Regions from separate parts of the Homo sapiens genome. Here region 1 is linked to region 2. The links come from fine-mapping of genetic effects on gene expression. A gene starts in region 2. The other region holds a variant in brackets. All regions are shown on one strand. Distances are from middle to middle.

Region 1 (13,268 bases), 50 kb before region 2:
CCTAAGCGGTCCTGTCTCTTTGCTGCAGCTTCAAGCCTCTGAGGACAGTGGACAGTGCAGCTTGCCTGGAGCCTCAGCCTCTGCTTGTTTCAGCCCCAAGCTCCTGCCATGCTGTGCTGCCTGATTCCCCCTCACATGCCTTTGCCTGCACAGGTTCCCCAACCCCACCCCTCCTCACCCCCACACTCCTGCTCCCCCTCCAGCAGCACATCTAAGCCCTTCCAGGTGTGAGAAGAAACCCAGCCCCACAGGCCCAGGCAGGCTGACTGAGGAGGACCGGGCAGGCCTGGGCCCCTTCCCCCAGCCGTGGCCTTGTGACAAGGGTCAGCATTCTGCTCACGGCAAGGGTCAGGAATCATTCTGTGACAAGGATCCAGGCAGGGTCTGTGACAAGGATAAGAGTGTATGTTGTACTTGGGGTCAGGTTCAGACCATAACAAAAGGGCTGAGCCCAAGAATGTCTGCTCTGATTCTATCATCGGTGCGGGAGCCCTGAAGAGGCTTCTCCCTGCCCCAGGTGCCCCCACGGTGCCCTGGGTAACTGGGTCAGGGCAGCTGGAACCTGACAGCACCAGGGTTGGTGGGAGTAGGGCTGAATTCTCTGCCTTGTTCCAAGCAGAGACAGCCAGGTCCCCATGCTCCCGGCCTCAGCCTTTGTCCTTGCCCCTGCCCTCCACCCAGGCCGCAATGTAAGCCGCAGCTGCACCGACGAAGGCTGGACGCACCTGGAGCCTGGCCCGTACCCCATTGCCTGTGGTTTGGATGACAAGGCAGCGAGTTTGGATGAGGTGGGTCTCAGGGCACCCCCACCTCACCTGCAGAGCGCCGGGGCCCACCTAGGAGACTTTGATCTCTCCCACCGAGGGGTGTGGTTGCTGTCTGTGTGGGAACAGGACTCCTGGAGTCTGCCCTCCTCTAGCCTCCTCCAGGCCTGCCTTTCTGGGGTCCCAACCCTTGGCTCCCCCTGACAGGGTATGGGAGGAGGCTTTCCCACAGGAGGGGCCCCCAGAGCAGCAAAAGCTGAAGCAGCTCCCCCAGGCTGGGCCACCCTACTGCCTCATGGGAACCTCACTTCAGCCCGGGAGTTGGCAGGGCAGGCAGACACCAGCACCCCATCCCATCCAGAGGGGAAACCGAGTTGCTGCAGGTCCTGGAAGGAACCAGACTTGGCTACCAAATAGCCAGTCAGGAACAGGGACAGAGCCTGTCATTCTCAGTCCCAGGACAGATATCTTCCCCGGAGCAGTTAAAACATGGTCTCTGTAAAGACTGGGGAGCCTGGTAAGGACATTGATGGGGAGGCTGGAGTCCTCAGCTAGGAGCCCCTCACTGCTTTGGGGTGCAAATGCATGTGTGTGTGTCTGTCTGCGATGGCATCTGCCCCACCCTCAGGCGCCCTTCTCAGACCGGGCTTTCACTCCACCCACCCCCGAGGACAGCAATTTCTTCAGAGGCCTTTGAAGCCCACTGGAGCTATAGGCCCTCATTCCCCCTTAACCACTTGCCTCTCCTCAGGCAAGCGTGGGAGGCTGACAGGAAGGAGTGGCTTGCCTAGTGGCTGTCGTGCTGCACTGCACCTGTGTCCATGGGGAGGGCATCAGGAGAGGGGACCAAGCGAGACACCCTCGGGGCCTAGCTTTGCCCTCCTCCACCGGAAAGGCCAGACTGCCCTCATCCCACCGACCCCAACTCCCAAGGGCCCAAAATGGGACATACTAGTGCCAGTGTCTTCTTCGACATCCCGCAACCTCGCATACCTCTCCTCCCTATACAGAGACAGGGCCTCGAGGGGTGTCTGAAGGGCAAGCAGACCCCACCCCTAGGGTGCCCAGCTCAGAGCTGGCACAGAAGGGAAGCCGGGCACATGGCTGGAGACATGAAATTAACAAAAGGGACGTGCAAGGTCTTCATTCTCTCCCTCACCAACTTGTCCCTCGTAAAGAAGCAAAGACAGGAAGTACATTCAACCCCCACCCCACCCTAAGACACAGTCCTGCCCTGTCTGTAGAAACCAGGGCGTTAGGGGTCAGGGGCTCAGCTGCTCTTGGGAGCCCCAGACCTCAGCCTCCTCATTTGCTGAGGCAGGGTTGGGCAGGCAGAGTGTGTAGGGCACCCCACCCCTGCCAATACCCCCTAGATGAGCCTCCCACCCCACCACCCAAGAGCCTCTCCCTGTCCCTCCAACAGCAGCAGACCATGTTCTACGGTTCTGTGAAGACCGGCTACACCATTGGCTACGGCCTGTCCCTCGCCACCCTTCTGGTCGCCACAGCTATCCTGAGCCTGTTCAGGTGAGGCCCAGCCCAAGTCACAGGCCTCAAAGCAAACCTGGCAAGTGTCCCTCCCACAGTGGAGCCCAGCGTGGCCCAGGCGTGCCCCGACCCCTCCACTGTTGCCCCCCAGCAGCACATACTCCCCAGCTCCTGCCAGGCCAGCTTCCCCTGGAGAAGGCAGGTGGCTGAGCTCTTCCATGTGTTGCAGCCTAGTCTCCCCTAGGATGGCCCTGCACCTGGGGACAGGGCACCAGAGAGTGGGGCCTGCACACAGGAATGAGGCTTCTGGGGCCACACACGAGGTTGAGGCCCTTGGGAGCCCAGTTGCACAGGTGGATGGGGTACCTGGGGGTGGGGCTCGTATTTCAGGATGGGATCCCCTTTGAGGCGGGGCCTGCCCTCTGGAGGACACATGCTCCCCTGCCCCACCCTTGCTCAGCACATAGGACAGCATTGGCTGGGGTGGGGATCCAAGGCCCCTTTGGCCTCCCAGATCTGCCCACCCCACACAGGAAGCTCCACTGCACGCGGAACTACATCCACATGCACCTCTTCATATCCTTCATCCTGAGGGCTGCCGCTGTCTTCATCAAAGACTTGGCCCTCTTCGACAGCGGGGAGTCGGACCAGTGCTCCGAGGGCTCGGTGAGGATCCTGGCCCTGGCCCACCTCCCTCAGTCTCGCCGTTATCTTTAACCACTGTAATCTCCTCTTCTCCCCCTGCTTCTCCCTCTCCCTCCTCCCTCTTCCCTCCCACCCCACCCCTCAATCCAAGGATAGCCTAACCCCCACCCAACCCCACCTGGCAGTACTCAAATCACACTCCCCTCCGGCAACAGGAGATGTTGCTCACCCATCTGGGTGCTCACAGACCTGCCGCCGCCAGTGAGAAAAGCAGATGGGAAATGGGACACTTCATGGCCACAGCCCAGAGCACCTGTCCCACCTGTTGCTAACTTCCTATGTGGCCTTGGGGAACTTACAGCCTCAGTTTCCCCATCTGTGCAAGGAATTCCAAGATTCCTTCCAACTCTGCCATCTGCCACCTGCATAGCCAGGGCTCTGCTCACCATGCCACTTTTCCTACTCCCCCCGTCCCCGTGCCATCTGGAGTGGGTCCATACATATGCAGTCCTCCTCTTTTGTTCTGATCCTGACAGCAGGCTGGTTCTGGGCCTTCCTAGGGAAGAGAGGTAAAGGGATCATCTAAGGAATTCATTGCCAGTCACTAAGGGGGCCATCTCCAAGGGATTCTTAGGGACCCTCTCTGAGTGCCCCAAGCTTTGACAGAGAGCTTGAGATCAGCCCCAGCCCCCACTCATTCCTTGTGGTCAGTAACTCATTGCTTCATGCATGACCCCAGAGGCAGTGCATTATATCAGGGGTCAGCAGTACCTTCTCCCCAAAGAGTGAAATGATCATACTGGAATCTCAGGCATTTCAACAAGGGGGAGAGAAAACCTAGGGGACCCACTTTGGCCATTCCCAGAGCTTCTCAGAGGTTCTGTCCCAGGAGCTGTGAGGCCAAGTCAGACATGAGCATTGTGAGCCACAGGACCTGTGGAGGAACCTGCTGCCTCCTGTGCACATGTTACGGATAATTATGGAGACTGGCTTCCCAATTCATTACTGCGAAGCTTTTCTAAGACTAGGAAGAAGCACAGATAACTGTCCTGGTAAAGAGCTGAGTTATGGCCAGACGCGGATTATGGCTCACGCCTGTAATCCCAGCACTTCTGGAGGCTGAGTTGGGCGGATCATGAGGTCAGGAGTTCAAGACCAGCCTGACCAACATGGTGAAACCCAGTCTCTACTAAAAATACAAAAATAAAAAAAATTAGCTGAGTGTGGTGGTCAGCACCTGTAATCCCAGCTACTCAGAAGGCTGAGGCAGAATAATCGTTTGAACCAAGGAGGCAGAGGTTGCAATGAGCCGAGATCATGCCATTGCACTCCAGCCTAGGTGACAGAGCAAGACTCCATCTCAAAAAAAAAAAAAAAAAAAAGAGTTATTCTCCAAAAGCAAATGGGAGGAAGATGGGGAGGCAAGAACTCCTGTAACTGGAGGGACTGAAGCGAGACCTGAGGAAGGACTTTCCAACCAAAGGGAGTGGTGGGGGCAGGGGGAGGCTTCTCTCTGAGGATGTCGCAAACCAAGGGTACAGGAAGGAAGGGTGGGAACCAATGTTTTGGGTACAGGGGGAAGTGGAAGCCAGACAGTTTCCTGGTGGAGGGTGGCTTTAAGCCCTGGCTGACAGACATCTAGGCTTGATCTGAAATGGGGGACTTTCTGGGAGGGGACAGAAGGCCCAGAATACCTTCCAGTCATGCCAAGTGGGCCACCCAGAGCCCTGTGATTGCTCTACTCATGGGTCTCCCTAACTCCTTCATGGTCCTCGTCTGCCTAAGAAACCCATTCTTCCACTCGGTCCTCTGAACCCCAGGAGGAATGGC[C/A]ACCCCTCCCCTCTTCTCTTCTTCTTCATTTCTACTTCCCCCTCTTCCACCCTCTTCTCAGTCCCAGTCTCCCTCCACACTTCCATCTGGGCCCCACTCCACAGTCCACAGCCCTCCACTCCCCCACATTGAGCAGACTCTTGAAACTCAAGCAAGAATTCTCCCTCATACCTTCCAGCTACCTTCAATACAAATTGGCATTAGATGAATGAGTGGGTGGGGTGGGAGTGTGGATGGGCAGGTTGGTGGATGGCTAAGTAGGCAGCAGGATAAATGGGTTAAGTAAGGAAGATTGGACAGATGATAGGCAGAGGGGCAGGTAGGTAGATATGTGGGTGGATGCACAAGTGGATTGATGGGTGGGTGCAGAGATGAATGGATGGGTAGATGACTGAGTGGGTTGGTAGAAGAATGGAGAGATAGGTGTGTGGGTGGATGGATTGATAGATGGGAAGATGATAGATGATGGATGGACACATGGATAAAAAATGGATAAATGAGTGAGTTGATAGTGAATGTCTAGTGGGTGAGTGGGTAAATAAATGGATACATGGATAGGTGGGTAGATGATTGAATGGGCAGATGGGTAGATATATAGATGGGAAGGTGAATAGATGAATTGATGGATGGATAATTAAAATCACCAGTTTATCCCGAAGTATCAGAGGATCTAAAATTAGGGAAAATGGGAAAACCAATGAGTACATTTTTAAGGGGATAATGCAAAACAACAAAGAGATTAAGTTGGCTGCACTGCAACTGTGTTTGTCCCCCCAGACACGAGTGTGGGCAGTCAAGGACCCTTGACAGCCCCAGTGAACCCCGTCTTTTCTCCTCCCCCTGCAGGTGGGCTGTAAGGCAGCCATGGTCTTTTTCCAATATTGTGTCATGGCTAACTTCTTCTGGCTGCTGGTGGAGGGCCTCTACCTGTACACCCTGCTTGCCGTCTCCTTCTTCTCTGAGCGGAAGTACTTCTGGGGGTACATACTCATCGGCTGGGGTATGGTACCAGGGAGGGCTTCCAGGCTGGGGACAGAGGGGGCAAGGCCTGGAGAACTCCCTAGGGGGAGGGTGCCAACCCAGCTTGCAGTCCTACGTCTTGCTTAGCTGCAGGTCCTGCCTGCAAGGATATCAGCCAAGGGTCAAGAAAGTCCTCAAAATGTCTGATCCCAGGACAAGTCCCTCAGGTTGCAGCTGCACCTAGGGCTGACCTGTGGGACAGATTTTGTGAACATCTTTCCATTTCCCTTTAGTTCCCGAAATACACAGGGCCACTGCTAATCTATAAAGGGCCTCTGTCACAATTAGAAAGAGAATGTCCGTCTAGGTAGACACAGCCCTTCAGGCATACAGCTTCACCCCCTCAGTGGAGCATCCCTCCGTGGTGAACAACCTATGCAACCAAAGACAGCAGACTGACAACCCACCCTTTTCTCTCTCCCTCCCTCTCCCTGCTTTTCTCCAAAATCTCTCCCTCATGCCCTCTACCCCTGCTTCCTGTGCCCTCTCTGCTCTTTCACTCTCCCTGGGCCTGACAGGGGTACCCAGCACATTCACCATGGTGTGGACCATCGCCAGGATCCATTTTGAGGATTATGGGTGAGCTGCTGCCCCACACACTCCCCCGGCCGCCATCACTTGGGCAGGCCCCCTGGGTGGGATGATAATGCCATCTGGCCTTGGTGAGTGGACAAAAACCACAGCTCTCGGGCCAGAGGGGAGGCTGGAGGAGGACCTGGGGAGCAACAGACTCTGGGCCCGGGGTTGCTAAAGTGCTCAGGAGCAGAGCTGGGGACAACTGGGGGAGGTGCTGCTGAGTCTCTCTCTGGCTGAGGACAATCCCTCTCATTCCTCCCCACGGTCTGCTCAGGTGCTGGGACACCATCAACTCCTCACTGTGGTGGATCATAAAGGGCCCCATCCTCACCTCCATCTTGGTAAGATACCCTCCCACCACCTAGAGATGGGGAAACAGGCCCAAAGGGCAGGCAACTTAGCCCAAGGTCACATGGGAAATTAGTATCTAGGTCAGAACTGAAACGTAGCTTCCTAATGCCCAATGCAGGATCATCCCCACCCCTGTCCTACCAGTTCTTCCTTGAGCGTAAGCGGATTGGGAGCACAGTCCTTAGGGATTTGAAGGAGGTAGAGTTCCCGGATGACCTGCCCAAAGGGGAAATGCCAGAGGAGAGGTAAGATAGAGAGAGGGGCAGCAGGACCCTGGGAAAGAAGACAGGCCAGCAGTCAAGGGGCCTGAACACCTCAGCCTTCCCGCTCTGACTGCCCGAACTCGGGTCCCCACCCACTAGGTAAACTTCATCCTGTTTATTTGCATCATCCGAATCCTGCTTCAGAAACTGCGGCCCCCAGATATCAGGAAGAGTGACAGCAGTCCATACTCGTGAGTGTGGGCCTAGTGCCTCAGCCCCCAGTACCTCCATCCCCAGTCCTCAAATCATCCCACATCTCCTTGAAGTCCTCCCACCCCAAACATCCAGAGTCACCAAAGAGCCACATTGTTCTTTCCCACCTCCACCATGGCCTGGCTCAGCCCACCACCATCCCCTGCTCCAGCCCCACCCTCACCAGGCTGCACTCAGAGCCCTGCATGCTTCTCCTGCCCACACTCACCTAGCATCCTTCCCAGGTATGCATCTGCTGCCAAGCCAGGGAGCTCAAGAGGACACCGATGACCTGTGTCTTGTTCATACCATGTGCCCAGTCCCTGGCATGTGCCTCACATGGAAAAAGGGTGCAATAAACACATAGTAGATGAATGCCCTGGGGGAGACCCCAGTCCACCAATGAGACAGCCATGTTCGGGACTCAGTATTCCTCAGTAATAATGATGACACCTGCAGTTTACATGCCAGGCACACGCTAAGGGATTTCCATGCATCATGTCATTTCATCCACACAGTCCCCTGCAAAATTATCTTTACTTTACAGGGAGGAAATGACATACACTCCCTTCTCCTTGAGGGTTTTGGAGCAGGTCACCATGGGCAGGGAGAAGGGGGCACAATGTCCATGGACCAGGGCTTGGAAAGGTGTCAGGACTGTTCCCCCTGCTTGGGAGGACTGGAGGAAGAGGCAGGTTTTTTTGCGGGAGCAACAAGGCTTGAAGACAGAGCTAAAGAAACATGAAAAATATGAAAAGGGAGGCTGTGGGAAGGCAAGTAGGGTCTGCATGCTCACAGATGGGAGTAGGAGATTGAGTATCAGTGCTATTGACACAAGACAAACCTGGGACGTCCCACAAGGCCTTCCAGTCCTGGGATTCTTCTTGGCCTGGCTTCTCTTTGGAGAGTCTGTGCTGTGGTTCTAAGATTCCTGGCTAGAATGTCACAGACTGCTGGATTTAGGATTCTATTCTGGAATCCTGTGATTCTCCCTGATGAGACTAAGACTCACATTCCTGGTGTGACTGCATTCTCTCCTGCCAGGTGTGTAGGCGGAGCTTCCCTTCCTGTCTGAGAAGGAAAGGCTGGGGGGGACGGGGGGGGCATCTGCAGTCTGCTGAGGGGCAGCACATCGGGCCTGTGCACCCTTATCCTCTCCTTTGCCGATGGGACCTTATTTCCCCCAACTTACAATGGTTCAAAAGGGCCTGAATCTGAGGCAAACAGAGCTGGCCATGGTCAGGGCCAGGTCTGTGTGGTGAGACAGAAAGGAAACAGTTGTCAGCAGGCAAAAGGGGTGGGGGCAGTTGGAGATGAAGCTCCTCAAGGAGAAGCTGTCAGCTCCCACTCTACACCTCCCCATAAGCCTTTGATTTAAAGAAAGCCTCCATCTGTTAGCCTCCGGTGTGTGGGATAGTTTTGCAGCCGAAGAGGGGTGGGCATTGCTCAGGATCTTGGCATGGCTGAGAACCAGGTCCAGGAAGGAGTGGGAGGGGCAAGGCCAGCTCCTCTGCCCCCAGCTTGCTGTGGGACCTCAGGCCTTGGGCTAGACTTCCTTGGACTGACTGCTAAGGCAGGAGAGACAGAGTCAGAGACCCTCCCTATCCACACCCCACCTCTCCTAGCCAGGGAGCAATGGGTTCACACTGCCTGGATCAGCTATGAGGTCAGGTGGCTGGGAGGCCTGAACCAGGAAGAGCTCTGGGCCATGGGAGGCGGGTGAGCATTTAGAATGAATGCTGACCCTACTGAGCACACAAAGCTGTGAAGAAGGAGCTGGTCCTTCAGAGCACGCTGGGAGTATATGCACTGGTGTGGGGAGGTAGGAGGAGGGGGATGCAACCCCAGAGAAGGTGGCAACTTCTGGAGAAGCAGACACAGCAGAAAAAACACAGATAGAGGGCGATACTGATTAATTTTGGGTTGTCCCTGGTGATCAGGTATGAACTTGGGTCCCCATCACCCTCCCAAGTGGCCCTGGGCATATGTGGTCAGCACCCAGTTAGAAAGACTTGTTTCCTAGTACGTCTTCTCTCATGGTCTCTCATGGATGCACTATACTTCATAGTACCCAAAACACTTCCAAGTTCATAGTGGGCCTCTGTTTCTATAATTTGACTATGTCGAGCATACACTTACTGCATTATACAAATTGGAAAAACTGAGACCAGGAGAGGAGGAACCAGAATCTCTTGTTGCCTAAGAGATTTTCTACTGCTCTTGATGGCTGAGAGCATCCTCTACTGCAATGATGAGGTAAGCCTCTCCTAGACCAGGGGGCCCAGGCAACAGAACTCCCAATAGTGGATTTCAGCTAACATGTCCCTGTTAGCATCATTCTCACTGGCCTCTCCTTTACCTCTTACCCTCTCTCCTCCAGAAGGGTGAGAATAGAGGGGGTTTCTTTCTCTCTCATGCTTCCCTCCAGGCCAGGAGGGCTGGGGGCAGAAGGGCAGAGGCACTGCAGCTGTGGAACAGGAGCAGACAAGGGCATAATATTCAGAGGAACCTACAGTCCATCCTCATACTTCCTGGTCATTGTCCCCATCTTCTGTGCCTCCAGCTGCCCCCATGCCACACCCTATCATATCCACATGTGTGGACACACATACCCATGGCCTGTCCCTCCCCTGTCTCCAGAAGGCTAGCCAGGTCCACACTCCTGCTGATCCCCCTGTTTGGAGTACACTACATCATGTTCGCCTTCTTTCCGGACAATTTTAAGCCTGAAGTGAAGATGGTCTTTGAGCTCGTCGTGGGGTCTTTCCAGGTATGGGCTGTTGACTTAAGGCTGCATTCTTCCCTGGCTTTTAAGGGAATTCAACCTGGAGTCTTGGCCCTTGCCACTGGATTCCAACCTTTTTACTGTAATAAGTATTAGATAAGCACCTACTTTGTGCTTAGCTCTTTCCTTAACCAGGGGAACACAGGGGCTGGAGCCAGGGGTGGGGCAGGGCTGGGGGCTTCTGGTCTGTCTACCTCACCTCTCCTGTCATCTTCCTTCTCAGGGTTTTGTGGTGGCTATCCTCTACTGCTTCCTCAATGGTGAGGTAAGCCCCTCCCAGTCCTTGGGGCTTAGGCAATGGAACTCCCAGGACCAGGGTCCGGAAACATTGGTGGGATATGTGCAGAGCAAGGACGGGTTAAACCTTGCTGCTCCAAGTATGGTCCTCAAACTAGTAGCACTGGTGTCACCTAGGCCCTTGTTAAAAATGCGCATCTCTGGGACCACCCCAGACCTGCTGGCTTAGAATCTGCATTTTAATAATTATTTTAAAAAACAAACAAACAGCTTTTTACTAAACCCCAGGGGGATTCCTGTGCACAACAGAGTTTGAGAAACACCTAGTTAAGTGGCTGTGTGCAGTGAGTGGGGAGGGATGAGGGCTTCCAATGAAGGTTGAGTTGCTGTGGAGCTCTGGTTACATTGCACAAAAAACCCACTCAAGTGAGCTGGAGACCCAGGATGGGAAGAATTGGAGTACAGTCACCCCTAGGCAGCATCCCTCCCTCTCCCTGGACTGTATTCTAGGATCCTCTCTGCCTCTTACCTCCTGCCATTCCAAGGCCTCCTTCTGAACCTGGCCTCAACCCAGTCCCAAGTTTGCACCGCCCGAGGCAGCATAGGGGTCCCTCCATTTTGATTTCCTAAAGAGAATAAGACTGGCTAGTTCAGAACCCTAAGTCCAGGGCAGCCCAATCAGCAGTGGAAGAGGCTCCACAGCAGTGGGCCTGACCACCTTCCCCTCTCCTAGGTGCAGGCGGAGCTGAGGCGGAAGTGGCGGCGCTGGCACCTGCAGGGCGTCCTGGGCTGGAACCCCAAATACCGGCACCCGTCGGGAGGCAGCAACGGCGCCACGTGCAGCACGCAGGTTTCCATGCTGACCCGCGTCAGCCCAGGTGCCCGCCGCTCCTCCAGCTTCCAAGCCGAAGTCTCCCTGGTCTGACCACCAGGATCCCAGGGGCCCAAGGCGGCCCCTCCCGCCCCTTCCCACTCACCCCGGCAGACGCCGGGGACAGAGGCCTGCCCGGGCGCGGCCAGCCCCGGCCCTGGGCTCGGAGGCTGCCCCCGGCCCCCTGGTCTCTGGTCCGGACACTCCTAGAGAACGCAGCCCTAGAGCCTGCCTGGAGCGTTTCTAGCAAGTGAGAGAGATGGGAGCTCCTCTCCTGGAGGATTGCAGGTGGAACTCAGTCATTAGACTCCTCCTCCAAAGGCCCCCTACGCCAATCAAGGGCAAAAAGTCTACATACTTTCATCCTGACTCTGCCCCCTGCTGGCTCTTCTGCCCAATTGGAGGAAAGCAACCGGTGGATCCTCAAACAACACTGGTGTGACCTGAGGGCAGAAAGGTTCTGCCCGGGAAGGTCACCAGCACCAACACCACGGTAGTGCCTGAAATTTCACCATTGCTGTCAAGTTCCTTTGGGTTAAGCATTACCACTCAGGCATTTGACTGAAGATGCAGCTCACTACCCTATTCTCTCTTTACGCTTAGTTATCAGCTTTTTAAAGTGGGTTATTCTGGAGTTTTTGTTTGGAGAGCACACCTATCTTAGTGGTTCCCCACCGAAGTGGACTGGCCCCTGGGTCAGTCTGGTGGGAGGACGGTGCAACCCAAGGACTGAGGGACTCTGAAGCCTCTGGGAAATGAGAAGGCAGCCACCAGCGAATGCTAGGTCTCGGACTAAGCCTACCTGCTCTCCAAGTCTCAGTGGCTTCATCTGTCAAGTGGGATCTGTCACACCAGCCATACTTATCTCTCTGTGCTGTGGAAGCAACAGGAATCAAGAGCTGCCCTCCTTGTCCACCCACCTATGTGCCAACTGTTGTAACTAGGCTCAGAGATGTGCACCCATGGGCTCTGACAGAAAGCAGATACCTCACCCTGCTACACATACAGGATTTGAACTCAGATCTGTCTGATAGGAATGTGAAAGCACGGACTCTTACTGCTAACTTTTGTGTATCGTAACCAGCCAGATCCTCTTGGTTATTTGTTTACCACTTGTATTATTAATGCCATTATCCCTGAATCCCCCTTGCCACCCCACCCTCCCTGGAGTGTGGCTGAGGAGGCCTCCATCTCATGTATCATCTGGATAGGAGCCTGCTGGTCACAGCCTCCTCTGTCTGCCCTTCACCCCAGTGGCCACTCAGCTTCCTACCCACACCTCTGCCAGAAGATCCCCTCAGGACTGCAACAGGCTTGTGCAACAATAAATGTTGGCTTGGATTGGCTTGGTTCCCCTGGTGGTTGATATTCTCATATGGCCTAAAATGGGACCAGCTTCCAACTTGGAGCCATCTTCCTCCACCCAAAGGATGGGTGATCTAATACATTACTGAAACCAGATGCCTCAACTCTTTTGGCTTTTGACAGAAATCCATATTTTCATATGAGGCATTCACAGTTCTGAGGGCCTTCAGCTCCCATCTTTTTGAGTGGTATCCTCTCTCCTCTGAGTGTGATGAAGACCAGGTCCCCATTGTGTCCCCCCACTCCTTAAATCCAGCCAAGAAAAGACCATTCTAATCTCAGATCAATACAAAACAGCTGGCAGAGCTGCCCAGGGTCCCAGAAATGGTTGAGTGTGAGTGTTTCACAGGCCGCAGACATTGCTGCAAACAAGGGTCTAGGATGACCATGTTGCAATTACCCAGGGCTCAGCTAAGAGGAGGTAGGTAGTGGACAAAACAAATGTCACCAACACAAGTTGAGTGAGCAGAGACAATATGGCACTAATAAAAAGGTTTAGACACAGAGGCAGTATGGCAAATATCATCAGTCAGCAAGAGATGTCTCCAAAGCCGTTCCCATGCTGACCTCCTTGGGTCCCACCTCCTGCAAACTTGCTAGAGGAGCAGGAGAGGGATGTCAAGCTGGTAAAATGTGGTCAGAATGGGCTGGCAAAGGCTCATATCTGCCTGCCCAGCTACTTCAATGCCTTGTCTGACCCAGTACCATTCCAGGACCCATCATCAATGACAGTTCCAACCCAGTATCCTCAGAGGCCAGAGTCAGGGGTGTTCAGGCCAGAATAGAAGTGACTGTGAGCCATGGGCAGAGGCACCCCCAGGGAAATGCCCTTTGATCAGTTGCCCAGCATATCCAGGAGTGGCACGGTCTCTCCATCTAGA
Region 2 (16,266 bases):
CCATCCTGGGCTACAGAGCGAGACTCCGTCAAAAACAAAAAAACAAAAAACAAAACTGAGGCCAGGTGCAGTGGCTTACATCTATAATCCTAATGCTTTGGGAGGCCAAGGCAAGAGGATCACCTGAGACCAGGAGTTTGAGACCAGCCTGGGCAACATAATGAGACCCCCATCTGTATGAAAATAAATAAAGTAATTAATTAACTAAAGTAAAAAATGCAATGGATGGACTCAATAGAAATATGGGGGGGAGGAGAAGAATGAATGAGTAAACATTAAGACAGAACATAGAAATTACTCAATCTGAACAATATGAGAGGAACTAGATTGAAAAATATTTCACAGAGACTTGGAGACCTGTGAGACTCTAAAAAATGACCAACTATTCATGTTACTTGAGTCCTGGAGGACAAAAGAAAGAAGACAGGGCTGAAAAAGTATTCAAAGAAATAATTTCTGAATATTTCCCAAACTGTGCAAAAGACATAAGCCCAGAGATTCAAAGAAACTGAACAAATCCCAGAAAGGATAAACCCAGAAACCCATGCCAGCACACAGACAGAAGCCCAACTTATGAAAACTAAAGACAAAGAAAAAATCTTGAAAGCAGCAAGAGAAAAATAATAACCTTACCTATAAGGGGAAAACAATTCAAATGACAGCAAATTTCTCATAGAAAACATGGAGGCCAAAAGGAAGTAGCACATTTTTCAAATACTAAAAGAAAAGAACTGCCAACCCAGAATCCTGTATTCAGCAAAAATATCCTTCAAGCAGCCAGGTGCAGTGGCATGTGTCTGTAGTCCCAGCTATACTGCTTGAGCCCCAGGAGTTCAAGTCCAGCCTAGGCAACATAGCAAGACCCTGTCTCAAAAAAAAAAAAAAAAAAAGGAATAAAAGAAAAATTAAAGCATACTTAGATGAAGGAACATTAAAGGAATTTGTCAAGAAGTTCTCTAAACAGAAAGGAAATGATAAAAGAAGAAATCCTGGAATATCAGGAAGAAAGAAAGAACAACAGAAAGGGTAAAAACTTTTAAAAATATGACAGATTATTCTCTCATGAGTTTTCTAAATTATGTTCGGTGAATGAAGCAATAATTATGTCTCATGTGGTTCTCAACATACGTAAAGGAACTATTTAAGACAATTATAAATGGGAGGGTTCAAAGACATAAAAGGAGGTAAAGTTTCTACATTTCATTTGAAATAGTAAAACACATCAGGAGACCACAACAAGTCATACACATACTCACACACAAACACATATACACCCCACTAAAAACTATACAAAGAGATATACTAAAAAACACTATAGATTATAAAATGAAATTATTATTTTTTGAGACAGGGTCTCACTCTGTCACCCAGTCTGGAACGCAGTGACACAATCATGGCTCACTGCTGCCTCAACCTCAAGTCATCCTTCTGCCTCAGCCTCAAGACTCAAGTGATCCTTCTGCCTCAGCCTCCCAAGTAGCTGGGACTACAGACATGTACCGTTATACCCAGCTAATTTTTTAAAAGATATATTTTGTACAGACAGGATCTTGCTATGTTGCCACAGCTGGTCTTGAATTCCTGGTCTCAAGCAATCCTCCCATCTCAGCTTCCCAAAGTACTGGGATTACAGGCATGAGCCACTAGGCCTGGCCTAAAATGTAATTATTTTAAAATGTTCAAATTACCCACAAGAAGTCAAGGAAAAGAAAACAGAGAAATAACAACAATGGCAACAACAAACAGAACAAACACAAAACAAAAAAGGGCAGACTTATTCCCTAATATATATCAATGATTACATTAAATGTAAATGGTCTAAATATGACAATTGCCAAAACAGAGACTGACAGTAGATAAAAGACATGACCCAATTATATACTATCTACATGAAATTCACTTCCAGTATAACAATATAGGTAGGTTGAAAGTAAATGGATGGAAAAAATATAGCATGCAAACATTAATCAAAAGAAGCAAGAGTTATATTATCATCAGATAGACTTCAGAGTGAAGAAAATGTCCAGGAACAAAGAAGGATATTACATAATGATAAAAGAATAAGTCCACTAAGAAGGCATAATAATCCTGAATGTGTTTGCACCAAACTTCAAAGATGTAAATAAGTGAAGCAAAAACTCATAAAGTGAAAGGAGGAACAGACAAATCCATAGTTATAGCTGGAGACTTCAATCAACTGCACCTCAAAAATTGATAAGACAAGTAAACAGAAATCAGCAAAGATTTACAAAAAGAACTAGAAAACACTATCAACTAAAGGATATAATCATGATTTATAATATTGCATCCAACAACAGAAGAATTCCTTTGAAGACCCCACAGAATAGGCTGGACACAATGGCTCATACCTGTAATCTCAGCCCTCTGGGAGGCCGAGGTGGGAGGATTGCTGAGGACAGGAGTTTAAGTCAAGAAACCACAGAATGTCTACCAAGATAGACCATATCCTGGACTATAAGACAAAACTCAATAAATTTAAAATAATTTATACAAAGTGTGTTATATGACCACAGTGTAATCAAATTATAAATTAATAACAGAAAGGTAAAGAAAACCTCCAAACACTTGAAAATTAAACACACACTTTAAAACAATCCGTAAGTTAAAAAGGAAATATAAAGGAAATTAAAAAAATACATTGAACTAGATGAAAATGAAAATATATCAAAATTTGTGTCACACAGCTAAAACAGTACCGAGAGGGAAATCCATAGCACTAAATGCTTACATTCCAAAAGAAGAAAAGTCTCAAAACAGTAATTTAAGCTCACAAGTCAAGAAATTAGAAGAAGAGCAAAATAAACTTAAATCACAAACATGGAAGGAAATAATAGGATAGAAATCAATGAAATGGAAAATTTTAAAAACAGAGAAAAATCAATGAAACAAAAAGTTGGTCCTTTGGACAGAGTGATACTTCATCTAAAAAAAATTACATTTCTATATACGAACAATGAACATATAGAAACCAAAATTTAAATACCATTTATAATCACTCTAAAAAATAATATCAATAAAGCTATAATTTTTTAAATAAAATACTTAGATATAAATCTAACAAAACATATACAGAACTTGTATGCTGAAAACTACAAAATATTCCTGAAATCAAAGTGCTAAATAAATGGGGAGATATATCATGTTTTATGGATTGGAAGAGTCAACAAAGCAAAGATGTCAATTCTCCCCCAAACTGATATACAGGTTTAATACAACTACTGAAAAAAAAAAATAAGCAAGCGAGTTTGTGGCTATAGATAAGATTATTCTAAAATGCGTATGAAAAGGCAAAGAAACTAAAATAGCTAAAGCAATTCTGAAAAAAGAATAAAATAGGAAAAACCATGCTATCCTACTTCAAGACTTATTATATAGCTATAGTAATCAAGATTGTGTGGTATTGTTGGAGGAATAGACATAGATCAATGAAACAGAATACAGAACCCAAAAATATACTTACATAAGTATATCTAACTGATTTTTTACAAAGTGCAAAAGTAATTTAAGGGAGGAAGGGTAGTCTTTTCTATAAATAGTGCCGGGAGTAAAAAGAAAGAATCTTGACCTAAACCTCACATCTTACATAAAAATTAACTAAAAATTTATCATAGATATAAATATGAAAAATAAAACTATAAAACTGGAAGAAAACATAGGAGGAAATCTTCAGGACCTATGACTTGGTGAGGAGCTCTTAGATATGACACCAAAAGCATAATCCATAAGATAATTCGGAAAACTGGACTGCAACAAAATTGAACACTTTTCAATTTTGCTTCTCTAGGAAAGCCCATGTGAAGAGGATGAAAAGACAAGCTAGAAATTGGGAGAAAATATCTGTAAACCACATATCTGATAAGCAACTCAAATCTAGAATGTATAAAGAACTCTTGAAATTCAACAGTGAAAAAACACAAACAATCCAATTTTAAAATGGGAAAAACACACATACAGACATTTCACAAAGAGGATATATGGATGGCAAATCAGAGCATGAAAAGATATTGAGCTATTATGAAAATGCAACTTGAGACCCCAATGAGATAATACTACCTACCCATCAGAACAGCTAAAATGATAAATAGTGACAGTATCAAACACTGGCAAGCATGGAGACAAACTGGATCTCTCATGCATTACTGGACTGTAAAATGGTATACTCTAGAAAAGTCTGGGCCAGGCGCAGTGGCTCATGCCTGTAATCCCAGCACTTTGGCAGGCTGAGGTGAGTGGATCACCTGAGGTTAAGGGTTCGAGACCAGCCTGGCCAACACGGTGAAACCCCATCTCTACTAAAAATGCAAAAATTAGCTAGGCATGGTGGTGGGCACCTATAATCCCAGCTACTTGGGAGGCTGAGGCAGGAGAATCACTTGAACCTGGGAGGCGGAGGTTGCAGTGCGCCAAGACTGCACCATTGCACTCCAGCCTGGACAACAGAATGAAATTTCATCTCAAAAAAAAAAACAAAAACAAAACACAGTTTGGCAGTTTCTTTTAAAACTAAACATGCAATTATTGTACAATCTACCAATCACACTCCTGACATTTATCCCAGAGAAATAAAAATTTGTGTCTACACGAAAACCTCTGTACAATTGCTCATTGCAGCTTTATTTATAACAACCAAACCTGAAAACAACCAAAATGTCCTACAAATAGTGAATGGTTAAACAAACCGCAGTATATTCATTCCATGGAATACTACTCAGCAAAGAAGAAGAATAAACTATGGTCCTGGTACACAGAACAACTTGAATGGATCTCAAGTGCATTATGCTTGGTTATAAAAAGCCCGTATCAAAAGGTTATATACAATATGCATCCTTTTACGTAACATTCTTGAAATGACAAAATTATAGAAATGGAGGGCTGATAAACAGTTGTCAGAGGTTAGGGATGGTAGAGAGGAAGGGAATGGGTGTGACTATGAATGAACAGCCAAAGGCATCTGGTGATGGAATAATTCTGTATCTTGATTGCGGTGATGATTACAGGAATCTACACACGATAAAGTGACAGTACTACACACACACACACACACACACACACACACACTTTATACCAACATCAATTTCCTGGAGTTGCTGTTTACTAGAATTATATAATATGTAATCAATGGGGAAAACTAGGTGAAGGGTACATGAGACTTCTCTGTACTATATTTGCAAATTCCTGCAACTATAATTATCTTAAAATAAAAGCTGGAAAAAAGTATTAACTTAAGATCCTCATGTACTGGTTACTTAAATTATGCTAATACTTTTTTGTTTAAATATAATTTTTAAATATCCCCACCAATATCTTATCTGCTAATTAACTGTAATTTTGATGTTTTATGCATGAACACTGAAGGGCACACTTTATAGTGAATAGCTCCTTTACTACATCACATTTCTAAACTGGAAGGTACTATAATCTCAGGACTCTTTGAAATAAAGCTGCTCAAAGACAACTAGTATTCAACTTAAAACAGGAAAGCGGCTGGGTGCAGTGGCTCATGCCTGTAATCCCAGCACTTTGGGAGGCAGAGGCAGGTGGATCACCTGAGGTCGGGAGTTCGAGAACAGCCTGACCAACATGGAGAAACCCCGTCTCTACTAAAAATACAAAATTAGCTAGGTATGGTGGTACATGCCTGTAATCCCAGCTATTCAGAAGGCTGAGGCAGGAGAGTCACTTGAACCCAGGAGGCAGAGGTTGCAGTCAGCTGAGATTGTGCCATCACACTCCAGCCTGGGCAACAAGAGCAAAACTCCATCTCAAAACAAAACAAAACAAAACAAAACAAAAAACTAGGAAAGCAGGCTGAGCATGGTGGCTCATACCTGTCATCCCAGCATTTTGGGAGGCTGAGGCGGGAGGACTGCTTGAGTCCAAGAATTTGAGACCAGCCTGGGCAACACAATGACACCCCATCTCTACAAAAAAAAAAAAAAAAAGCCAGGCATGGTGGCACACACCTGTGGTCCCAGCTACTTGGGAGTCTGAAGTGGGAGGATCACTTGAGCTCAGGAGGTCAAGGCTGCGTGAGCTGCGACTGCATCACCGCACTCCAGCCTGGGCAACAAAGTGAGACCCTGTCTCAAAAAACAAAAAAAAAAAAAAGAAAAGAAAAAAGAAAAGAAAAGAAAATCAATTCCACAAGGACAAAGGCAGCTTCAGAATGTTCATACAAGAGACACTGGAATGTCTTCCAGATCTTACCAGATCCTTCCACAAGGCAGTGGATGTCATAACCTACCACCTTGCCTGGTACATATTAGGAAGCACTCAGTAAACACTGCTAAGTTAAATGAATGAATGACCTAAGGGCTGCCTTATTTTTGCTCACTGAAACAAGAAATGCAGGTTTACAGATCCCTTGCCATAGTTCTGATCTACAGTTTGAACACTTTTCCACAATAAATCTGTATTTGGAGAGAAAAAGAGAAAGGTTTATACAGATGAAATTTGTCTAAAAGTAGAGTGAAGTAGTAATCAAATACACAGCATCCGTGTTACTAGGTTTTATAAAAACATATTTTAATTTGCCTCCCTTATTTCCTAAATCTTCTTCCCAGCATCTGTTTATAAACTGCTCATGTCATAGATTATCTCTGTTCTATTAACAAAGACTTTATGCCTATGCTGCAGGCTACCCTTGATCCTGTTTTTTCTTCCACCTTTTACCCTTAACCCCTCCTCAAGCCCCTACCACATGCACTGAGAGAGAGAGAGGCTGAGAGAGACAGAAAGAAAGAGAAAAACAGAGAGAAAGAGAGAGATGACTGCACCTTGCAAAATAGGAATTTAGACAAAACAGGCTTCATTTGGCACACAAATATTCAAACACAAAGTGTTCACCATAAAGTATATACAGAATACAGAAGACTCAAATACACAATACAGAAGACAAAACTGAGTTGTGCCACCCTTACTGAATTCACCTTCAGCCACAGGACTTGAGAACTGGTTACCAAATCTGTAGATTCTATTAAGGCTCCAAGTTGCTTGGGGATGGAGTGAAGAGGAGGGTAGAGGTCAGTTTCGTCATTTGTTAGGAACTAAGAGGGGTAGGGAACTAAACTTGATAGGACCTTTTACACTGATAATGTTATTAAATGCTTGTAACTATAAGGTAGACATAATCTATACCGGATAGGTGGGAAAACTGCAGCTGTAAGGCTCAAGAGGTAAAGCTAGATTCAACCCAGACTTCCTTACTTCAAATATTCTAAAGCCTAGGATCTTTCCACCACATCCTTCTTCTACAAATCCAACTTTGGGAATTACAGCTACTCCCTTTCTCTAAAATAATTTCTTCTCCTTAGAGCACTAATAAGCTAATCAGAGACCTGTTGGTAGAGGAAGGAGCCTGAGATTACACTTGTTACAACTGCTCTTTATCCACTGTATTACCTTGAAGTCAGGTTGTCCTCTCTATGATCATGTTACTTTTTGAATTTAGTTGATTTCTAAGTTATTCTAAGAATAAAAAACACTGACTCCAAGATGGCTTCTGTTGCAAATGCAAACACTTAAATCAGAGCTATTAACATTGTCCAAAATGTACTTTCCAGAGGAAACACTATTTGTTTATTTAATTCTATCTGGCAACGTTAAACCATTTCCAGTTGCTTCCATTTTTCATTTTACTAAAATTATCTTTAGTGGGATCAACTCTTCTCTGCAAAATGTAATTAAATATTACCCTATATGTTGGTTCTGAGCTGTATTTTTTTCTGACCATGTCACAAATTTCACCAATTACTTTTCACACTGGCAATAGTCTTCCGTGGCTTTTATTTCTACAAACCTAATTTTTCCCCGAGTGCTTTATCCTTCTGGCTCTGGAGGTACATGTGTAAATCTGTAATGAACACAAAACCTGTAATGGAACGTCCTACACCTAGTGCTCTGAAAAGTTGGTTCAGTGTATCCAATATTTAAAGTCTAATAACACGGGCATGCTAAGGGAAGTTTGCTATTCAGATTAAACAATGCTCTGACGTGAGCTTCGTGAATGGTTAAAGAAACAATCGTCCCCTTTCTCACTCCCCATCTCTTCCAACTGGGAGAAGCCCTTGGCGCCCATCTGTCAGCCCAGGGTTCCTGCAGGCGCGTGCCTTGGGTGGCCCCGGGGTCCGGGAACAGGCTGACGGGAGAAAGGGGACAGAGGACTCCAAGAAGCCCAGTGAAGCCCCGTGGGGAGCCCCATGGTCAAGGCCGGGACTGAGGGCCGGGTGGGCCCTGGGCCGCCTCCACCTCTGGGCCCGCCCTGCGCCACACCCTAACCCGCCTGCTCTTGGCTAACGGGCCGCGGCACCCGCCTCCGCCCGCCAGCCCTCACCTCGCCCGGACGGCGGCCTTCGGAAGTCGGCGCCTGCCAGCTACCCGCCGCCTCCTCAGCAATCTTAGCCGACCGGGAGGGCTCGGCCCAGGTCACCGGCAGCCCAGGCGCAGGTAGGCCGTGGTGCGCGTGCGCGAGTCTTGAGCCACCCCACCTCCCCCCTACCCCGCATTCGCTGCTGCTAAGCGACACCCGCACCCAAACCGACCAATCCCGGCGCGCCTCCACAGCCCCCGTCCCGGCGAAGGCGCGAACGTAGTGGTTCTTAAAGGGCTGCGACCCAAACGGAGAGGGAGTGTGACGGGGGCGCGCGCCTCCCAACTTTCTTCCCACCTCCCGGCTCTCACCGCGGCGGTTTGAGATCCAAGCCTGTAATTCTCACGTCCGGAGGTGAGAAGGAGCCTTCGTGATCTAAGCTCGATTCCTGCCGGGGTAGCAACCGGACTGACGTCTGGAGGCGGGGAGGCTCCGCGTGACAGAGTGATAACGCCCGGGGCGTATGTTCTGCGGTCCGCGCGGCTGGGCGGGAGGCCCGAGATAGGCAAACCAAAGAGCACAACCTACTGCCAGCCTGGATGGGGCGCCAAAGTCCGACCCAGGGGGACACACCCCAAGCTGGGGACCGAGGCACCCACAGATGGATGACTGGCTGGAAGGAGATTAGGTAGGTAGCAGAGTCCGTCCATTTATTCATTTAGCAAGTATTGAGCACCTGCTATGTGCCAGGGGTTGTGGACAAAGCGAGGAATTCCTGACACGAAAAACTATGTTAAGAGAGGAGGCAGGGTGAGAGCACCCTTCAAACAATCAAACACCTGTATAAATACAAACTGCTCTTCAGGGAGGAGCAGGGGTTTTGGGAGAATTTACAGAAGCTTCTAGGCTGGTGTTGGGAATCACAGGAGGCTAACTAGGCAAAGGGGAGAGGAAGTGTGTTTCAGATGGAGAGATTAGCATGTATATAAGAACTCTGTGGAAGGCAGCAGAGCTCCTTTGAGGGATGAAAAGAAACCCAGAAAGGGGGAAATGGAAAGTTAGTGCTTAATAGGTACAGAATTTCAGCTGGAGAAGATGAAACAGTTCTGGAAATGGATAGTAGTGATGATCACACAACAATGTGAATGTACCAAATGCCACAGATCTGCACACTTAAAAATGGTTATGTACATTTTACCACAAAAAGAAAAGAAACTCAGAGTTTAGAGAATAAAGGAGTGGAGTGAGATCCACTAGAGCGAATAGAAGGGGCAGGACCATGTAGGATTTTATGGACCATAGTGGAAAGTTTAGGACCATAGAACACTGGTCAAAATTGCATTTTATAAAACTCACTTTGGCTGCTAAAGTGCAGATCAAAATGGAGAAGTCTCAACAGAGCTATGGTGGGACTGGCCTGGGAGCCAGTGCAGTCATCTGGGCAAGAGAGAATGGAGCTGGAGTGTGGACTAGGGTGAGAGTGAAGAAAAAGAGATCTAAGAAGGCTGCAGAGAAATGTAGGAGCAAAATCAATAGGACTTGGTGATGAGTTGGATGTGAAGGGGCGATGAAGCAGCTTCAAGGATGATGCCACTGTTCAGCCTTGGATAAATGGATGGATGGTGCAGGGATTCACAGATATGGAGAACACTGGAAGAGGAGATAAGATTGATCTTGAGCTCCATCTTAGACAAGTTGAATTTGAGGCACCTTTGAGACTTGGTTAGGATTTTGCGATGATTAGTTTTAGATGTCAACCTGACTAGGTTAAGGGATACTCAGGTAGCTGGGGGAACATTACTTCTGGGTATGTCTATGAGGGTGTTCCCAGAAGATATTGGCATTTAAGTCAATGGACTGAGTAAGGAAGATCTGTCCTCATCTAATATGCGCAGGCACCACATAATAGAACAAAAAGGCAGAGGAAAGGCAAATTCTCTACTCTGGAGTTGGGACACCCCTCTTCTGCCCTTGGCATCAGAATTCCCCGTTCCCCTAATCTCCTAACTCTAGGAGATTAGGTAGTAGAGTCCGTCCATTTATTCATTTAGCAAGTATTGAGCCTTTGGACTCCAAGACTTGTACCAGTGGTTCCCCAGGTTCTCCCGGCTTGGGCCTTGGACTGGGAGATACACCATTCAGCTTCCCTGGTTCTGAGGCCAAGTCTAAGACAGGGTAGTCTTGAACTGAAGCAGTCTACCAGCCTCCCTGGTTCTCCAGCTTGTAGATGGTCTATTGTGGGACTTCTCAGCCTCCATAACTATGTGAGCCAGTTCCCCTAATAAATCCCCTCCCATATATCTATAGATATAGATCTATATTGTAGATATATAGATATCACATTGGTTCTCTCTCTCTGGAGAACCTTGACTAATACAGATGTCAACACAGCAGGTGCATATACAGGTTGCAGGTCAATGTAGAGGTCTGGGCTGAACACAGACTTTTTTTGAGGCTGAGTCTCACTCTGTGGCCTAGGTTGGAGTTTAGTGGCACAATCTCGGCCCACTGCAACCTGCGCCTCCCAGGCTCAAGTGATTCTTCTGCCTCAGCCTCCCAAGTAGCTGGGATTACAAGCATCTGCCAACACGCCCAGCTAATTTTTGTATTTTTAGTAGAGATGGGGGTTTCACCATATTGGCCAGTTTGGTCTCGAAATCCTGGCCTCAAGTGATCTGCCCGCCTTGGCCTCCCTAAGTGCTGGGATTACAGGCGTGAGCCACCACGCCTAGCCGGGACATAGACTTTTGAAAGTCAGCATCATATGGGCGGAAATCGAAGTGGGGCTTACATAGCCAGAGAAAAATTACAAAATGAAAACTGAAGAGAATTGTGATACAGTCTAAGATAGCCTCCAGGGTTCACCACCTCCTGGGATTTATACCCTTGTGTAGTCCCCTCCCACAATGAGTCTCTGATAATGAGGGTAGGTCATAACAGGCACAAAGAAGGAGAAAAACCAGGAGATTCAGGGTTGGTAAAGGCAATTGAAAACCCTGTAGCATAAGTGCTCTTCAAATATGGGGAATTGGGGCCAGGTGTGGTGGCTCACACCTATAATCCCAGCACTTTGGGAGGCCAAGGTGGGTGGATCACGAGGTCAGGGACCAGCCTGTCCAACATGGCAAAACCCCGTCTCTATTGAAAAATTACAAAAATTAGCCGGGCGTGATGGTGGACATCTGTGATCCCAGCTACTTGGGAGGCTGAGGCAGGAGAATCACTTGAACCTGGGAGGAGGAGGCTGCAGTAAGCCGAGATCGCACCATTGCACTCCAGCCTGACCTACAAGAGCGAAACTCCATCTCAAAAAACAAACAAAACAAAACAAAACAAACAAACAAATATGGGGAATTGGGCTCTCAAAACTTGTGGTGCGAGTGCTTTAGAACAGGACCTTACACTCTCTGACTGGTGCAACTGGTGTGGTTCAGGCACCATGGTAGATTGGACAACAGGGGTGAGATGTAGTACCTAAAGTCCTAGCTCTCATCTCCAATCATTGTTCACTTTGGCTCCAGGTTCACAGTCAACTCCAGAGTCTTTCTCTTCCAGTCCTCTTCAGTCCTCCACTCCTAGGGTAACACCCTGGACCACAGAAGAGCTCCACCTCTGAAGTTATAAATGCAGACACCTGATCTTTCATCTGTCCTTCTGCTATTCTCTGAATTCCTTTCATGGTTTCTCTAGCCTGCAGAAACTTCCAGTTCATTTGTCCCTCTACTTTGTTTTATTTATAAGCTCCATCGAGTCTTCATTTCCTTCCCCATCAGCTGAGAGTTCAGGGTTTATCACCTCCATCACATTCTTCCCAATATACTTATATTCCTTGCACAGTTATCTTTCTGGCATAACTAGAAGGATAGTAACACCCATCTGGCAGCACTACAATCCTGGAAGAATCCAACCTTCTGTCTTCTCTGAATCTGCTTCTTGGCTCTAAGTGCTGCTGGACAAAATCTCACAACCACACAGATCAGTGCTACATACATTGTCAACTTCAACTAGGTCCTCAACACCTTTCAGCGCTCCTATTTGCCAAGGCAGCTCTCTCTCCAGCTCTCCCCCAAAATCAACTTCCAAATATCCTGCATGCTCCCCAGATCTCCCACTCTTCAACCCCCCCTCCCCCGCTTGCTCTCCCAGGAACCTCCGTTACTGAAGAAAGAGCAACCATCAAAGTGATGTCCCTTAGCTCCAGACAACTCCTCTCCTTCCAGCTACCACCTTCTTTCCCCTCTCCCCTTTACAACCAAACCTCATGGAAAAAGTGGTCTATATGTGAACACTCCATTGCTTCACCTTCACCTTTCATTATTTCTCAGTCCCCTGCAGTTCTGATACCTGTTTCACCATATCACTGAAAATGCCCTCCTCAAAGACCTAGTCTTTATTCTTCCTTGTTCTTTTGTTGTTGTTGTTGAGACAGAGTCTCGCTCTGTCACCCAGGCTGGAGTGCAATGGCACTGAGGCTTACTGCAACCTCTGCCTGCCGGATTCAAGTGATCCTCCAGCCTCAGCCTCCCAAGTAGCTGGGACTACAGGCCTGTGCCACCATGCCTGGCTAATTTTTGTATTTTTAGTAGAGACAGGGTTTCAACATGTTAGCCAGGCTGGTCTCAAACTCCTGACCTCAAGTGATCTGCCTACCTCGGCCTCCCAAAGTGCTGGCATTACAGGTGTGAGCCACTGCACCCACCCCTTCCTTGACCTTTCAACAGCATTTGTCATTGCTGTCCTGTATGTCCTTTTCAGTCACTGTTTAAAAAAAAAAAAAAAGCCATAACCCCCACTCTCCTGGTTTTCCTCTTCCTATATCTCTAGTCTCTTTCTCCCCTCAGTCTCCATTGCAGCTTCTTTTCCTCTGCCATAAGAGAAACTATCACATTCTCCTTAGGCAGTCTTATCCACTACATAGTTCCAGTCAGTTTCTACAAGTGATGTTTCTCAAAGCTGTATCTCCAACCTAGCCTTTGTCCCTGAGTTTCAGCCCCAAATAGCCACAAGCCTCAACATCGTTTGACATCACCTCACACTGTACATTTCCACAACTGAATATATCACCTTCATTTCCATTCCAGCATCTCCCCCACTGTTCCCTGCCTACATAAGGGGCATCACCAGTTTCTCAGTTGCTTAACCCAGAACCCCAGAAGGCATCCCTAATTTCCCTTTTCTTTCCCTCCCCACTTGATCACTAAGGCCTGCCAAATCTACTTCTAATGTCTTTCAAATGCACACACTTCTTTTCTCATTGCTCCCACTATCTCTGGCCTGCATGCTTGTAGCAGCCTTGTCACTGTTCTTTTTGTTTCTCATCTGGGCGTCTTCCCTAACTTTCACCATGTTACAGCCAATAAAACTCTAAATGCATCTCAGGCTTCATCATTCTTCTGCCTAAAACCATCCATGGCTCCCATTACTCCTAGGAGAGTACAGAATCTGGACACCTGTGTCCTGCTTAACCTCCACTTTGCCTTTATACTGCCTTTATAAACCTTTTCTTCTGGAGGTCTTTCCCTGTATGCTGGAACAGGTTGGTCCCCTATAACACCTGCCTCACCCTAACACCATCTCATTTTTTTTTACCTGATAGAAACTTTAATGATGTTAAAAAACCAATCAGTCCAGGTGCGGTGGCTCACGCCTGTAATCCCAGCACTTTGGGAGGCCGAGGCAGGCGGATCACGAGGTCAGGAAATCGAGACCATCCTGGCTAACACAGTGGAACCCCGTCTCTACTGAAAAAAAAAAAATACAAAAAATTAGCCGGGCGTGATGGCGAGCGCCTGTAGTCCCAGCTACTGGGGAAGCTGAGGCAGGAGAATGGCATGAACCTGGGAGGCGGAGCTTGCAGTGAGCCGAGATCGTGCCACAGCACTCCAGCCTGGGCGACAGAGCGAGACTCCGTCTCAAAAAAAAAAAAAATCAAATCCTTATATAAACCTCACTCAAAACCTTCGCTTTAGGCCAGGCTCTGTGGCTCACACCTGTAATCTTAGCATTTTGGGAGGCTGAGGTGGGTGGTTCACCTGAGGTCAGGAGTTCAAGACCAGCCTGACCAACATGGTAAAAACCCCCATCTCTACCAAAAACACAAAATTAGCTGGGCGTGGTGGTGCATGCCTGTAATCCTGGCCACTTGGGAGGCTGAGGCAGGAGAATTGCTGGAACCCCGGAGGTGGAGGTTGCAGTGAGCCGAGATTGCACCATTGCACTCCAGCCTGGGCAACAAGAGTGAAACTGTCTCAAAAAAACAAAAACAAAAACAACAATAACAACAACAACAACAAAAACCGGGGCCAGGCACGGTGGCTCACGCCTGTAATCCCAGCACTTTGGGAGGCCGAGGCAGACAGATCATGAGGTCAGGAGTTCAAGACCAGCCTGGCCAACATAGAGAAACCCCATCTCTACTAAAAATACAAAAAAATTAGCTGGGCATGGTGGCTTATGCCTGTAGTCCCAGACTACTCGGGAGGCTGAGGCAGGAGAATTGCTTGAACCTGGGAGGTGGAGGTTACAGTGAGCTGAGATTGCACCAATGCACTCCAGCTTGGGCAACAGAATAAGACTTTGTATCAAAAAACAACAACAACAAAAAAACCCCTTCACTTTATTCCTCAAAACATGTATGTCCCAGTTCCCTCCATTTCAGAGCCATAAACATAAAGCCTACAGGTAAGATACTTAATACCCAGGACAGATCTTTGTGTGTATATATACATACCATATGTAGCATTATGTTATATAGTATTATATAAATTACATGAAATTTTGCATAAGATTGGTAAGCAAGTCACTTAAACTTTATGAACAAAAGTATAGGCCGGGCATGGTGGTTCATGCCCATAATCCCAGGGAAGCTTTCACAGGTGGGAGGATTGTTGTCTGGACCATCTCATGTTATTGTCATTCCTCACTTGTCTAAACAGGAATAGGGCTGAGTGGAACTACGGAAGACCTGTATCCTGCTCCTGATGTTTCCTTTTCTGCCCACTCTGTGTCTCTGAAAGCTTTGGGGAATTTTCCTGAGGAGGAAGCCTGATGTGGAGTTAACAGTGCAGGCTTGGTAACCAGGAAGCCCTGAGTCCGCCCCAGCTCAGGTGTTACCTCACTTCTCTCACCGGGTTTACCTCTCTGTGAAATGGGATGAAAGCAGGCCGGGCACAGTAGCTCACACCTGTAATCCCAGCACTTTTGGAGGCCGAAGCGGGCGGATCACGAGGTCAGGAGTTCAAGACTAGCCTGACCAATATGGTGAAACCCCATGTCTACTAAAGATACAAAAAAAAAAATTAGCCGGGTGTGGTGGCAGGCACCTGTAATTCCAGCTACTCAGCAGGCTGAGGCAGGAGAATCGCTTGAACCCGGGAGGCAGAGGTTGCAGTGAGCCGAGATCACACCACTGCACTCCAGCCTGGGTGACAGAGCGAGACTCTGTCTCAAAAAAAAAAGAAAAAAGAAATGGGATGAAAGCTGCCTTTTCACAGGTTTGAATAAAGGGATTGTGGAGAGAAAGCCCAGTAAAGCAGATGAGCTTGCTCAGGATCAGGGCCACCACTCAGGGGAATAAAGCTCTAGGGACCTCCCCTTTTTAGGAGTGTAGGTTCCCAAGATCTCCCTCCTAAATGAAGTGGCCGCTGCTCACTCCAGGGAAAACGAATCTTGTTACCACATCCACCACGGATGGCTAGAACAGGGGACCGGTACCGCATAGCAGGAGGTGAGCAGAGGGCGGATAAGCATTACCGCCGAGCATTCTGCCCCCTCAGATCAGCGGGGGCATTAGGATCAGCGGGAGCATTAGATTCTCACAGGAGCGTGAACCCTATTGTGAACTGGACTTGCAAGAGATCTAGGTTGCGCGCTCCTAATGAGAATCTAATGCCTGCTGATGTGAGGTAAAAGAGTTTCATACCAAAACCACCCCCACC

Evidence for each region. PIP is the estimated chance that this variant, and not a neighbour inherited with it, causes the effect.
Region 1: its variant is fine-mapped to the expression of SEC22C in lymphoblastoid cells (GTEx, PIP above 0.99).

The regions. Positions count from the first base shown.
Region 1 is chr3:42,525,206-42,538,473 of GRCh38, forward strand. VIPR1 (vasoactive intestinal peptide receptor 1) reads left to right here. Exons shown (of 13, transcript NM_004624.4): 4 at 682-788; 5 at 2,188-2,291; 6 at 2,786-2,918; 7 at 5,574-5,727; 8 at 6,266-6,326; 9 at 6,598-6,664; 10 at 7,037-7,128; 11 at 9,770-9,899; 12 at 10,138-10,179; 13 at 10,885-12,363. The coding sequence ends at 11,076. VIPR1-AS1 (VIPR1 antisense RNA 1) reads right to left here and starts at 7,401. Exons shown (of 3, transcript NR_046654.1): 1 at 7,359-7,401; 2 at 6,816-6,890; 3 at 5,691-5,753. RefSeq lists an enhancer at 8,174-8,675. The variant C/A (reference allele first, on the strand shown) is at 4,728.
Region 2 is chr3:42,573,493-42,589,758 of GRCh38, forward strand. It overlaps SEC22C (SEC22 homolog C, vesicle trafficking protein), which reads right to left and starts at 8,475. Exons shown (of 7, transcript NM_032970.4): 1 at 8,354-8,475. It also overlaps a transcript of SS18L2 not described here. RefSeq lists enhancers at 7,942-8,768, 8,761-8,890 and a silencer at 8,231-8,560.